2 separate regions of the Homo sapiens genome follow, and region 1 is linked to region 2. Evidence: fine-mapped expression QTL. A gene starts in region 2. The other region holds a variant in brackets. All regions are shown on one strand. Distances are from middle to middle. Region 1 overlaps TRIM5 (tripartite motif containing 5). Region 2 holds the start of TRIM5 (tripartite motif containing 5).

Region 1 (2,735 bases), 20 kb after region 2:
GTTTCTTTTGTAAGGCACCAAAGTTTTGTTTTGTTTTGTTTTAAAATCCTTTTTTTTTTTTTTATGTCCTATGAGTTTAAGAATGTAGACAGGGAGAGGTTAATTATTTCATTTTAGAAGGAAGAAACTGTGCTTCTGAGAGGTTAAGATCTTCCCACGTTCTCACAGAAAGTAAGTGGGAAGGCAAACATGAGAACATTTTGTTTGCCTCCAGGGTCAAGAGTTTGCACTCTCCCTTCTCAGGATCCCCAAGAAGAGAGTTCAAGTGCCTCAATGGGTTGAAATGATAGGAAGTCAGGGGTGTTCCACGGACACAAGGTCAAAGGTTTGGAAGTTTTTTTTTTTTTTTTTAATTCTTAGGACGGAGAACGTGACCTTGAAGAAGCCAGAAACTTTTCCAAAAAATCAAAGGAGAGTGTTTCGAGCTCCTGATCTGAAAGGAATGCTAGAAGTGTTTAGAGGTGAGGAGAGCTAGATCAACAACAGGGTTATGGAATTCAAGTGGTGTTAGGGTGCTAAATAGGGAAGAGGGTGCAGTTTCCAAATATGGATAGAGGGGATAGGGGAGGATAGATATTGTCTGCTGCTGATGGGATTATATTTAATGGGAAATGGCTAGGTGGCTGTTTCATCTCATCATTCAGCAATTTACTGCCCTACCATAGGGCATACCTACTCTTTCCCTAATCTGGAGAGAAAATGAATTTCAGTGCTGACTCCTTTGTTTGTATTCAATATTGTGCATTTTTATCATTTCAGAGCTGACAGATGTCCGACGCTACTGGGGTAAGGAGAAGTCACATTATCATAAGCCACCCTGCGGCTTATCATTATTATTATCTTTATCTTTTAGAATTTTATGTTCTCTATTAGGCTCATGTTTTAAGATTTATGATTCTCCTTCCAAGACACACATAACTTACCCCTCCTTATAACTTCTAAACAAGGTTCCTCCCAGTTTTCTCTCAAGTCTTTATCAAGATTTCTCTCATATCACAAATAAAGTTACATTATATCCCTTAGCTGACCTGTTAATTTTTCTACAGTTGATGTGACAGTGGCTCCAAACAACATTTCATGTGCTGTCATTTCTGAAGATAAGAGACAAGTGAGCTCTCCGAAACCACAGATAATATATGGGGCACGAGGGACAAGATACCAGACATTTGTGAATTTCAATTATTGTACTGGCATCCTGGGCTCTCAAAGTATCACATCAGGGAAACATTACTGGGAGGTAGACGTGTCCAAGAAAACTGCTTGGATCCTGGGGGTATGTGCTGGCTTCCAACCTGATGCAATGTGTAATATTGAAAAAAATGAAAATTATCAACCTAAATACGGCTACTGGGTTATAGGGTTAGAGGAAGGAGTTAAATGTAGTGCTTTCCAGGATAGTTCCTTC[C/T]ATACTCCTTCTGTTCCTTTCATTGTGCCCCTCTCTGTGATTATTTGTCCTGATCGTGTTGGAGTTTTCCTAGACTATGAGGCTTGCACTGTCTCATTCTTCAATATCACAAACCATGGATTTCTCATCTATAAGTTTTCTCACTGTTCTTTTTCTCAGCCTGTATTTCCATATTTAAATCCTAGAAAATGTGGAGTCCCCATGACTCTGTGCTCACCAAGCTCTTGAACCTTCTTACACACTCAGCCCCTTCTGTACAGCACCTCTTGTCCAGGTGCATCTCATACACCTGAACTCATTTGCATCATTTTAACCATCTTTTCCTTGCTGTCTCCCTTCTTTCTATTTGAACGTCCTTCACTCATCAGTAAAATGTAATAATTGCCTTGTGCCATATTGTCCCCAATATTTTATTGACATTTGATAGCAATTTTTTTCATCATTTTCCGTACTCCTAAGGAAAACTGACCTATACCTCATAAAATGAGACCGCTATTTAGGTATTACTTCTGCCAGATATTTATCACCCAATTGCCTCTGACACTGACTAAGAAGATGAAGAAAAGCTTTTCAACAGCCTTTCTATATCATCGTGTGATAATTGTTCACCAATGAATGAGTCCTTAGCCCTGTGTCAGTTTACCCTCGATGCCCTTATTTGTGAGTTAAAGAGAAAATATCATAAATGGTATACTCTTAAGTATAGAGGTTTTGTATCTAGAGGATCTCAGTTCAACTCCTGTCTCTCCATATACCAGCAGTGTAACTGTGAATAACATACTTAAATGGCTGTGCTTATTTCCTTTTCTTTTCTTTTTTCTTTTTTTTTTTTTTTGAGATGAAGTTTTGCTCTTGTTCCCCAGGCTGGAGTGCAATGGCACGATCTCGGTTCACTGCAACCTCCACCTCTCAGATTCAAGCAATTCTCCTGCCTCAGCCTCCCAAGTAGCTGGGATTACAGGTGCCCACCACCACCCCTGGCTAAATTTGTATTTTCAGTAGAGACGGGGTTTCCCCATGTTGGTTAGGCTCGTCTAGAACCTCTGACCTCAGGTGATCCACCCGCCTCGGCCTCCCAAAGTGCTGGGATTACAGGCGTGAGCCACGGCGCCCAGCCTGTGCTTATTTTCTTAAAATAATTTTTGTATTAAAAACTTCACATTAAATAAGTGCTAATGTTTTATTGCATAGTAGGGTGACTAGAGTTAACAATAACCTATTGCATATATTTTGAAATAGCTAGAAGAGAGGATTTTGAAAGTTCTCAACACAAAGAAATGACACATATTTGAGGTGATGGATATGCTAATTACCCTGGTTCGGTTATTAC
Region 2 (3,031 bases):
TATATACACCATATTCTAGTAAATCTGAGACAATAAAGAACAAAATGCAAAAGCCCCCTACCTGATTTCATGAAACAGAAAGCTGCGGGGGTACAGTGTGGAGGGGGTATGAGGTTACTGATGATGGAATTAAGTGATAACAGGCTGCCCACTGCAGTGCTCCCCATTGCCTTCTCCTGAGGCATTTTCATTTTCAAACTAAATACTCCTCTCTACCAATGATCCTAGTTCCAGTGTGGACTTCCTGAGATGTTCCAGTAAGGGAAAGCTTAGAAGGGAGGCTATGGTACATGGACCACAGTTCAGCCTTTTGGACCAGTTTTGCATAGTAACCAGAAGAGAAGAGAGAGGAAGGCCTGGCCCTGCTCAGGGATGCAATAGATACTTTGGAAAAGACAACAGCGGGAAGTTGGAGAGTTCTTTGAAAGTGAATAGTTGAAAGAAATAATGTGGTATTTCTTTATCGCTCTCCAGATAAACTTCTTTTTTTTTTTTTTTTTTTTTTTTTTTTTGAGACGGAGTCTCACTCTGTCGCCCAGGCTGGAGTGCAGTGGCGCGATCTCTGCTCACTGCAAGCTCCGCCTCCCGGGTTCACGCCATTTTGCTGCCTCAGCCTCCGGAATAGCTGGGACCACAGGCACCCGCCACCATGCCCGGCTAATTTTTTATTTTATTTTATTTTATTTTATTTTATTAGAGATGGGTTTTCACCGTGTTAGCCAGGATGGTCTCGATCTCCTGACGTTGTGATCCGCCCGCCTCAGCCTCCCAAAGTGCTGGCATTACAGGCGTGAGCCACCGCGCCCGGCCCTCTCCAGATAAATTTCTAGCATCCTGTCCTCTCTGGGTTTCGGAGTCTTAATAATATGACATCTCTCCTACCTGCAGCTCCTTTTCTGTTCATAGGTCCTATAAGATTTTTAAGTCCAGACCAGAAATCTACTGCAATTCTCTAAAAATCATTAACTTTGTTCTTCCTTCTCTTTGGGCCATATCTGTCACCCAGAAGCAGAACTCAGCTGTGAGATCAGGAGCAAGAGGAGCACATTGGAAGAATTTCGAAAAAGGGCACCTTTTCTAATTTTTAATACTTGGCTGGGTTAATCTGAAACTATGTCAGAAGAAGTGGCATGATAACAAGATCCTGAGACTCAAGAGAAAAGGGAGATTGAGTGGGAATGCCTCTAGTTCCCACGGCTCCTCCTGTGAACAGCACAGCTACACGGCCCGGCTGATTCATTCAGAGGGCGGGACTCACCAGGCCCTACGTGGAGAAATGCCATTGGCCCATAGTTTATCTTTCACTTTCCTGCCCTGAGTGTGAGCAAGAATTTCCTGCGGTTCCTCTAGGAAAATTCCTTTGTGCAGATCAGGCCCGTGGATTGGTGAGTGAATCCTAACCACGTCTTCCCTGGCCTGTCTTCACTCTTCTCCCCAGAATCACCACTTCTGCACTGGTGTCTGAAGGTGTATTGAGTGATTTTGTGGAGGGCAGAAGTAGGAAGTCTTTGGGACAAAACTGTATTTACCTTGGTGAGTTTAACTTATCTGAAAAGCTGTGCGGGGGTGGGGAAAAGACACAGTTCACAGACTTCTTGCTGCCAGAGCTGACTGAGGGGAACAGAGCCGCCTGGCGGGCAGGCAGATTTGAAAGAAGGGAGAGCTTTAAAGTGAAGGGCTTTGTTTCCCGAAGGCTGGTTATTTTTCCATGCTGACTCTCTCCCCATCCCCTCCCTACTCTATACTTTTTAATTGAACTTTGCTGTAGAGAGCCAGAATTCTCTCTTTCAGTGTCTTCTCCCAACAACAAGGGCAAAGACAGGGGCCTTGGAATCCTAATGATTTAATGCCTATTAGTTTACTAATGTAGTGTTTCTGCATAACTCTACAGGTCAGTTCTCATCACCTTGGCCTGGCTCTGTGACATCAGCCTTCATGGTGTGACAGCTGTCCAGTTCTGTAGTCCTGTCATTGTCACTGTAAATGGAGTTCTTTCCCTAGTTCATATTGGTTACAAAGATAATGGGAAAAAAGGCAAGCAGGTTTTATTTCTTGCTAGGAGTGGAGAGTAAGAGAGCTCCTTCTCTAAAGCCCCCTCCCCCAAAACAGTGGAAAGCATTGGCTTTAAAAGAACTGAGTACGGGGAGAGAAAGGAGTGTTAGCCTATAGGGTGGAACTCCAGTTGTGCCACCTCTGTTTATAAACACATGTCTTCATACTGTGTCCGGAATTGGTGGGTTCTTGGTCTCACTGACTTCAAGAATGAAGCCGCGGACGCTTGCAGTGAGTGTTACAGTTCTTAAAGGCGGCATGTCCGGAGTTTCTTCCTTCTGATGTTCGGATGTGTTCAGAGTTTCTTCTTTCTGGTGGGTTCGTGGTCTCGCTGGCTCAGGAGGGAAGCTGCAGACCTTCGCGGTGAGTGTTACAGCTCATAAAGGCAGTGTGGACCCAAAGAGTGAGCAGTATTAAGATTTATTGCAAAGAGGAAAATAACAAAGCGTCCATAGTGTGGAAGGGGACCAGCGCAGGTTGCCACTGCTGGCTCAGGCAGCCTGCTTTTATTCTCTTATCTGGCCCCACCCACATCCTCCTGATTGGTCCATTTTACAGAGAGCCGAGTGGTCTGTTTTGACAGGGCACTGATTGGTGCATTTACAATCCCTGAGCTAGACACAAAAGTTCTCCAGTCCCCACTAGATTAGCTAGATACAGAGTGTAGACACAAAGATTCTCCACATCCCCACCAGAGTAGCTAGATACAGAGTGTCGATTGGTGCATTCACAAACCCCGAGCTAGACACAGGGTGCTGATTGGTGTGTTTACAAACCTTGAGCTAGATACAGAGTGCCGATTGGTGTATTTACAATCCCTTCGCTAGACATAAAGTTTCTCCAAGTCCCCACCAGAGTAGCTAGATATAGAGTGTCGATTGGTGCATTCACAAACCCTGAGCTAGACACAGGGTGCTGATTGGTGCATTTACAATCCCTTAGCTAAACATAAAGGTTCTGCAAGTCCCCACCAGACTCA

Evidence for each region. PIP is the estimated chance that this variant, and not a neighbour inherited with it, causes the effect.
Region 1: its variant is the best candidate, but not a certain one, in a credible set for the expression of TRIM5 in nasal epithelium (TOPMed, PIP 0.84).

Annotation. Positions count from the first base shown.
Region 1 is chr11:5,663,707-5,666,441 of GRCh38, reverse strand. TRIM5 (tripartite motif containing 5) reads left to right here. Exons shown (of 8, transcript NM_033034.3): 6 at 361-461; 7 at 760-786; 8 at 1,047-2,735. The coding sequence ends at 1,633. Among named protein-coding and RNA genes, the nearest start is that of TRIM5, 20 kb to the left of the region's middle. The variant C/T (reference allele first, on the strand shown) is at 1,406.
Region 2 is chr11:5,683,370-5,686,400 of GRCh38, reverse strand. TRIM5 (tripartite motif containing 5) reads left to right here and starts at 1,327. Exons shown (of 8, transcript NM_033034.3): 1 at 1,327-1,533. RefSeq lists an enhancer at 1,320-1,569.